Linked DNA regions of Homo sapiens: region 1 is linked to region 2. Evidence: fine-mapped expression QTL. A gene starts in region 2. The other region holds a variant in brackets. All regions are shown on one strand. Distances are between the middles of the regions.

Region 1 (4,517 bases), 22 kb before region 2:
CAGGATTTTAACTCAGATTTGTCTAATGCTGAGGCTCAAGCTCCTTCTGTTGCACTGAGCTGCCTCTATTTTTTAAAGTAACCTCTGAGATGTTACTTATTTTTGGAACTCAGAAACTCACTCCAGCTTTATCCCACTTTGATCTTTATGACTTAGGTTGCAGATGCCATCAAAGCTGTTGCTTCTCTGTGAACTGCAGCAGACTTTGCCCGGAGCAGTAAACTGTGGACGGAGGAAGGGAAGCAGGAAGGCAGGTTTGAGACTGGTTCCCCATGGGTTCACTGGCACTATCCTGGGTCGTCCCACCCTTCCTTCAGCCTGCCGCCCTGTCCTGAGTCATGCAGTTCCCTAGCACTCCTGGGACAGCTGAGCCCTGTGCATGCATGCACGCAGCATTCCCCTGCAGCCTGCGCTCACACCACCCCCCACGCACCACCCTCCACCTGGTCCTGGACATACTTCGCTACCTCAAGGTATCCAATGGCCAAAATCCAAGGCTACCACTGGGGAAGATTCTTCACGGGTTTGCAGTGTGCCATGTCTCCCCTGCTAGACTGTGAATGCCTCTAGGGCAGGGACCTTTCACCCTCTCATTTGTGTGCCCAATAAGCACCTACTATGTGCCAGGCACAGTGCTGGATGCCAGGGTATAATTGGAGCTGATGTGCAGTCAGTACACAATGGCACAGCTGTAGCAGCCCTGAGACCTCCAAGTGCTCCAGCACCCTGGCTGCCCCTTGGTGTACTGCCTGGGCCTCCTCACAGTCCTTCAATGAAAGGGCTAATGTTTGGCACACTGGAGGGCTCCAGGAGCTCATGTCACATTGGCTCATGTCTTAGACCTCCTGGACCTCCCTGGCCTCTGTAGGTATGTGCCTGATTCCGGGCAGGTTTGCACTGGGATAGACATGGGGCGGTTTCAGTGATGAGTCACCTGATGACAGCCCTGTAAAATATAAAGGAGTGCTGGGTACAGGCATGCACAAGACCTTGAGTGCTCCTCTGTGACAGTCTCCTCACCAGTAACTGTCTGAGTCAAGTCTGGCCATAGGCAAATCCATTGTCATCCTTTCCTCTCCCCCTGCTGGCTTCAAGATCCAGCCAGTTCTCTCTTTCTTTGCTGGCTTCTGTATCACTAATGGACTTGTGGCTTTGGGAGCAGGTGCCATTTCCCTGCAGGCTGTGGACTTCTTATCAGCTCCATCCAAGAGTTTTGACAGGAGCCTGAAGCCCTGTTTAAAGTCCCTGTCTTCTAGTGGAGTTTCACTGATTTTCTGGTTATGCCAGCTTCTGGTTCCAAGGTCATTGCCAGCCCTTAGTTCATGGGCAGAGCTGAGACCTTTGGCATGCTTGGTGCCCAGCTCAGGTTCCCAGGTCTGTCCCCCTACCCCAGGGGCTCCCACACACCCTGGGATGGTCTTCTAGGGCCTGTCCATGTGCAGTGTTCACAGTGGCAAAAACACAGCAACAACAGCACATGCAAACGCTCCCAGCAAAAGGTAGGAGGGTTTTACACTCCTGGACCAGGGCTGGAACAGCGTTGTTTATTAAGAACACGGACTTTAGATAATTCTATTGAGATTATACATGGAAAGCCCTTGTTTCAGTATCTGACACATACTAGGTGTTCAATAAATTACAACTATCATTAAAGGCACTTTGAGGAGAGCAGAATTTGCTATGATGGTTGATGATGTGGTAAAGGTAGTGATTCTTGATAGTGATTATGGAGTCTCACCACTGACAATGGCAACGATAGTTTTCCTTACCCAGGGAATGATATATCTCTCTGGGGATATTTACAGTAGGTTTGTAGGTCACATTTGATAAAGAGAGTCAAGAAGAGAAGGAAATATGTCCTATGGGTAATTTCTAGTTTGATTATGGAGACAAGATTCAGAGACACAAAAGAATTATAAGAGTTCTCCCACTTGACCTGGGAGCCAAGGGCTCGGGAAAGGGAGGCTCAAGGTTCCTAGCACAAGGTAATCATTCAAATATGATTCCCCAAAATGGCATTGACAGCCTTCGTCCTCTTTCCACTGTTGGTCACTGTTAGAACAGAAGGGAGGCTGGTGAGCCAGTGAACCCCTGCTTCTTTCTCCTGCTTACTTTCTCCCCGCAACTTGCCAGAGGTTCACAAACCTTCAGGTAAATGACATGACAGGGAATGTCACTGACAGAGGGTTAGGGGTGAAAATGTCAGGATGGGCAAGTATCAGACCCTCCTGGCCTTCCCCCAGCTGCTCCAGAGGAGTTTTGAGCTGAATTGCACCCCTAGCCACAGCGGAGCCCACTACTGTGCTCACAGAACCACTGTCGGAGAGTTTCGAGGACTCAGAGAGAACACAAACACCAGGAGACTGGAAATTCAACTTTCTTTCTTTTTTTTTTTTTTTTGAGGCAGAGTCTCACTCTGTTGCCCAGGCTGCAATGCAGTGGCACAATCTCGGCTCACTGCAACCTCCACCTCCCGGGTTCAAGCAATTCTCCTGCCTCAGCCTCCCAAGTAGCTGGGATTACAGGTGTGCACCACCACGCCCAGCTAATTTTTGTATTTTTAGTAGAGACAGGGTTTCACGATGTTGGCCAGGCTGGTCTCGAACTCCTGATCTCAAGTGATCTGCCTACCTCGGCCTCCCAAAGTGTTGGGATTGCAG[G/C]CGTGAGACACTGCACTGGCCTGGAGATTCAACTTTCAAAAGGTAAACGATGGAAACCACAGAGGAGAGACTTTTAGACCCTCTGCCAGTGACATTCCGGATTACCAATACCTTCAATAGTCCAGAACCTTATTACCTGTATTTTACAGTTGTGGAAACTGAGGGTCATAGGGTTTAAATAAACGAATAAGTGATAGAATCAGGATTTGAATGTAGGGTTGTCTATTCCAAATCATTCCTCTTAACCACTATCCTGCCAGTCGAAGCCATGGTGATGCCCTTCTGAGCAAATTGATGGTGTCTGTGATGCCCTTATGTACCAACCTTCTCTACTCAGCAGAGGAGGAAATGGCCCCTGGCTAGTGGGCGGGAGCATCAGTGGATATTATGCTGGATTAAGATGTCATTCTACTGTTGACTTAGAACATAACCATGGGGCCATGAGGCCGCACCCCTGTGGGAAGGCAGTGAAATGGCTCATCTAAAGTTCTTCCTGGTGTAAGTGCCCTGGGGAAGATGTGTGATCCAGGGCCTGGGAAGCAGAACTGCTGTAGGATCTTATGGCTACAGAAGAGAGACCCGGACTCTTTTTTTTTTTTTGAGACAGAGTCTCACTCTGTCACCCAGGCTGGAGTGCAGTGGCAATTCTTGGCTCAATGCAACCTCTGCCTCCCAAGTTCCAGTGATTCTCCTGCCTCAGCCTCCTGGGTAGCTGGGATTATAGGCACACACCACCACATGCGGCTAATTTTTGTATTTTTAGTAGAGATGCGGTTTCATCATGTTGGCCAGGCTGGTGTCGAACTCCTGAATTCAGGTGATCCACTATCTCGGCCTCCCAAAGTGCTGGGATTACAGGCACGAGCCACCGTGCCCGGCCAGACCCTGACTCTCATAGTCTGCACTTTTGAAGATATTGAAGATATTGGTGTCTATAAGGATGTCCCCAAGTCAGGGGCCTATCAAAAAGAGGCAGGTCAGGAACTAGAAGGGGAGGGTGGAGATCAGGCAAGGCCCTATGTTTCACTCTGGAGTCAGTTAGCACCTGGAGAACAAATGATACCTTACACAACAAACTGTTTAGTAGGTCACACTCCACCCCATTCATGTCCCCATTGTCACCTCTATCTGAACAGCCTGTTACAGCCATTTTAAGGAAGCAATTTTTAAGGATAATAATTTAAAATAAAATTTTAGAACAAGTAGACAAACTTCTTAAAAGAATAGTTTTTGATGCACAGAAAAGTTGCAAAGATGGTACAGAGGATTCTCGTATATCCTCACCCACTTTCCTCTACTGCTAACGTCTTATATTGGCCACGGCAAATGAACCAGTATTAGTAAATTATTATTAACTAAAATCCATACTTTATTTACATTTCCTTCGTTTTTACCTAATGTCCTTTTTCTGTCCCAGGATTCCATCCAAGGTGCCACGTTACACTTAAACATCATGCCTCCATCCTTTCTTCCTGGTCTGAGAGAGTTGCTCAGACTCTCCTGGTTTTTGATGATCTTGAGAGTTTTGAGTATTCATCATCAGGTATTGTGCAGACTGTTAATTTGGGCTTTGCTGTTGGTTTTCTCATGATTAGACTTGGTTGAGTTCTTGCGAGGAAGGTCACAGAGGTGAAGTGCCACTCTCATTGCATTATATCAAGGGAACATTCCATCAGCATGACTCATCACCATTGATAACAGGCTTGATCACATGACAGAGGGAGTGATTGTCAGACTTCTCCATGGCGAAGTTACTCAAAGGATGCATTCCAATCACTGAGATGGAAGGGGCAGTACCCCCTGGCAGTCTGTATGGTGGGAACCCATGAGAGAACCCACCCGATAGGTAAATTTCAG
Region 2 (4,000 bases):
GGAGGACTGCTTGGACTCAGCAGTTTGAGACCAGCCTGGTCAACACAGGGAGATCCCATCTCTACAAAAAATTTACAAATTAGCCCGGCATGGTGGCATGTGCCTGTATTCCCAGCTACTTGGGAGGCTGAGATGGGAGGATCCCTTGGCCCTGGGACATAGAGACTGTAGTGTGCTGTGATCATGCCACTGCACTACGGCCTGGGTGACAGAGTGAGGCCCTTTCTCAAAAAATTTAAGACAGGCCAGCAAGTGAGAGATTAGTATTACTCCCTTTTGCAAAAGAGGAAACTCAGGCTCAGAGAGGAGTCATAGGACAGGTGAGGTAAGACTGGAATCTAAACCCAAGGCTATGGGGTTCAAGGACTAGGCCCCTTCCTCTGCTCCTCAAGCCTCACTAAGTCACCTGTGTGGTAGCTGAAACGCTGTATGTCTCAGGAATGCAGTTTCCTCAGCTGTAAAGTAAGGGAATTGGGCCAGAGCAGGGGCAGAGCCCTGGGCAGGCCACCAACCAGATTTGCCCGCTGAAGGCTAAGGTCGAGCCTGGGTCCTCAACTTGGCGTCAAAGAAACTTGTTTCTCCTGGGCTAAATGGCAGTGACAGTATAAGGTTTGAAGTTTTGGAAGAGGGGAGAGAAAGAGAGGGTTGGCTGGAGTTCCAGTGCCCAAAGGGTCTTCCCCACACTGGAACCTGAAGGCCTAGGCCCTATAACTCGGGCTATGAGGATACTTAGGTCCCTGGAAGGTGCGTGGCCCAGCTTAGACAATAGGCGCAGGAGGCTAGACAAGGGGCCTTTGTGTCTCCCAAGCAAAGGCCCCAGCAGGACTGCAGAGGCGGCTCAGCCACTATGGGCTGTGTGTCCACTCTGCTACTGCTCCTGGTGGGGCTGCAGCCAGCACCCTTCCTGGCAGCCAGGCCCAGTCAGCTGATATGGAGCCCAAGAGGGCCCAAGGCCCCGAAGGCCCGGGGCAAGTTCCTTGGCTACAGGAAGAGGCCTCCTCTGCACTTGTCCAGCCAGCGGAGCGATTGGCTCCATTTCACAGGAAAGAAGACCCTGCCAGGGAATGGAACTGGGTCAAGGTCTCCCAGAGTCAGTGCTGAAGCCAGACAGGAACCTACACTCCTGATTCCTAGACCAGAAATGAGAGAGAGGCGGGGTGCTCATTCATTCATCCATTCACACCTTCAAGGATTGAGCACCTCCCAGGACCTCTAGGACAGCAGCAGGAAGAAGGCAGACCTGGTTCCTGCCCTCGGGAGCTCACAGTCTCCGAACGGGTCAGACATGCAGCCGGTAGCCCGACCAGGGAAGGCCATTAGAGTGGGGTTGACGACAGAGAAGAGAGGTAAAGCAGCTCAAGATAAGGGGCCAGAGTGGGGAGTTCAGGGAGCTGCTGATAAGATTAAGGCAGGGAAAGTGGGGAGCACGGGAGAGGCGGGATCCTGAGTACCCTGCTTTCCTAACCACGGTAATGGAGAGAGGCACCCCCTTCCCCCACTTTCAAGCAAGGGAGGTACGTCCTTAGCCTGGGGTTCCGAGCAGGTATCTCCCAGTAGGTCCCTTCCTGGCCAGCCGGGCTGGGGCAGGGGCGGGACAGGGGTAGGGTGGCGCGGTGGCTGGGCGCAAAGGTCCCGCAGTGGGCCACGCAGGCACCGGGCTGACCTGGCAAAACTTTGGCGTCTCTGAAAACCTCTGGTAACCAGCTCCCTTCTAGCGTGAGGGAGCCGGGAGGCCTCCTTCTGGCCCGGCAGTGAGAGCGTCGCCGCCCGACCCTCCCGTTGCAGCACCGGTACAGACACGCTGACCCCGCGGCCTTGTCGCTGGGCGGCGTCCCGGAGCGGGTGGCGCGGTGTCTACCCGGGCGGGTTGAGGGCGGTGCCAGGGTCAGTCAAAAGTCCGCCCCGCCCCCTGCCTGGCCCGGCTTCGGGGTTGGGGAACAGCGCAGGGAGGTGGGTAGCCGGGCTCCCAGGCACGTGGGTCTCTGCGGCTGCGGCGGGACCCGGGCACTGGCACCCGGGAGCGGCGGCGACGGCACCCTGAGAGGAGAAGCGCAGCGCAGTGGCGAGAGGTGGGGTGGGGCGTCTGGAGGGAACAAGGCGCTGGGAGAGGCCCGGGGAAGCGGCGGGCCAGACTGGCGCAGGTGCGGACTGGGCGCGGGGCAGGGGAGGGCGCTGTGGAGCGGCTGTCGCCCCGGGGCACAGTTGCGAGCCGGCGTGTAGCGCATAACTGGACGGCTTGAACGCGCCTGTGGGTCCGTGGTTGAACTTTGTCTCCACGGGAGCGTCGGTCTCGGTGAGTGTGGACGGGCGCCCCAGTAGTGAGGCTGTGCGCGTCAGCGTACTGGGGAGGTCTGCGTGTTAGCGGGTGAGTGTGTGCGCCCCTCGGGGCGACTGGCCAAGCCTGCGGAACTTGTCTGTGTGTGCTCCGATGTGAGCGTCCCCGTGGCGTGAGGCGGTGGCCGGTGCCCAGAGACGCGAACCCCTGGAGACCCCCTACCACTGTCCTAACCCCAGGGTCACTCTGGGTGGCCACCTACCATTGGTAATGTTGAGGGGGCAGTTGCAGGGAGTGGGCGGGGGAGGAGGGAGTGGCCAGAAAGGACAGTTAAGCCTCTGTCCCCGGGCTTTTAATCTGGCAAATGGTGCGGTAGAAAGGGTCAGTCAGGAGAAAGGCGATACCCCACCCCCCAACCCGAAGGCTGCCAGTGGCCCTCTTGGGGTCCTCCAGGAGCGCAGCCCAAGGGTTGGGGACTGCTGGAGACCAGAATTGCCAGCTCGGGATTTGTGGGGTCCATGGCTGCTGTTCCTCTCAGCATGGCATCCCCAGCTTCCCAGGACCACAGCCTGATCTGCCTGGTTTGTTTTGGATCTAAGCTGAAATAATTATGAGTTTTGAGGATCTGGGTGGAGACCCAGGCAAGTTTATTACCTGTGGGTGGAAGTGGAAGGAAGAAGATTCTCTGAGCAGACAGGTCCACAAGAGAGCTCTGGAGACTCAGAGATCTATGTTCCAATCCTGTCTTGGCCACTGTGTGGCCTGGGCAAGCCGTCCTTTCTCTGAGCCTCAGTGGCCTCGTCTGTAAGAAGGGACTAATGATAAGGAATTTGAGGGCTGTTGAGGAGCTGATGAGTGTGTCATGTTCAGCACCAGTGTCCCCCCATGGGCAGGCTCACAGCTTGGGGATGGGAAGTCAGTCCCTGGAAGGAGCCTCCCAGAACCAGAATCCCAACTGTGCCCCTCCCTAGGGCACAAGCCTTCCACAGGACCAAGCCTGAACCCTGTAGCCTGGGACTTAAGGTATTTGATAACTGGGGCCTGCCAGCCTTTCCAGCCACCTCTCCCGCCTGACTCTTTACCTTGCAGCAGCTGCCTGGAGTCTCTCATTTCTTGCCCCTGGCCTGTTGCATATTCTACACTCCCTCTCTGATAAGCCCTCCTACTCTCACCTTCCTCAACTGGAGAACTACCCAGACTTGGGACCCAGCTCAGATGTCCTCTCCTCTGGAAAGCCTTCCTTGATCCCTACAGCTGGGTTGGAGCCTCTTCTAGGCCCCTACAGGCCTGGGGCTGACAGCCCTGGTCCCACCTGAACCGTCATGATCTATGTCTGTCTCCTCCTTTCCTCTTCCCAGGTCTAGGGGCTCCTGGAGGGCAGAAACTGGGTCTTATTATTTCTGTGTTGCCAGCACCCTGCACAGGGCTGAGCTGAACTGAGAGAGCAGCAGTGGCGCCCATCCCCTGTCTCTGGCACCAGCTTCTCCAGTAAAGGCCCGGCTGCAGGGGAGCTCCATGTCACTACAAAGAAGGGCAAACCAGAATCTGGTTATCAAAGTGGGTGGCACAGTTTGCCAGAACAGTGTGATCTGGGACACTGTAGGACCTAGAGTGCCCAGGCTAAAGACCTAGAGATTTTATCCTGAAGGCAATAGGGAGCCATGGAAATTTATGAGCAGAGGTGTTTCATGGTCAGAGCGGCATTTCAGAAAGCGCTCTCTGGCT

Which allele goes with the higher level. Alleles are on the strand shown, and positions count from the first base shown. SD is a standard deviation of normalised expression in the study named.
With allele C in place of G in region 1, the expression in esophagus mucosa of the gene that starts at base 1,918 in region 2 is higher (small effect, 0.18 SD a copy in GTEx).

Evidence for each region. PIP is the estimated chance that this variant, and not a neighbour inherited with it, causes the effect. A credible set is the group of variants that fine-mapping cannot tell apart.
Region 1: its variant is the best candidate, but not a certain one, in a credible set for the expression of P2RY2 in esophagus mucosa (GTEx, PIP 0.50).

The regions. Positions count from the first base shown.
Region 1 is chr11:73,194,481-73,198,997 of GRCh38, forward strand. No RefSeq gene overlaps it. Among named protein-coding and RNA genes, the nearest start is that of IUR1, 14 kb to the left of the region's middle. RefSeq lists an enhancer at 4,184-4,478. The variant G/C (reference allele first, on the strand shown) is at 2,661.
Region 2 is chr11:73,216,364-73,220,363 of GRCh38, forward strand. P2RY2 (purinergic receptor P2Y2) reads left to right here and starts at 1,918. Exons shown (of 3, transcript NM_002564.4): 1 at 1,918-2,069. LOC124902709 (a long non-coding RNA gene) reads right to left here and starts at 1,830. Exons shown (of 3, transcript XR_007062773.1): 1 at 1,664-1,830. RefSeq lists enhancers at 1,752-2,470, 2,471-3,189 and a silencer at 1,829-2,038.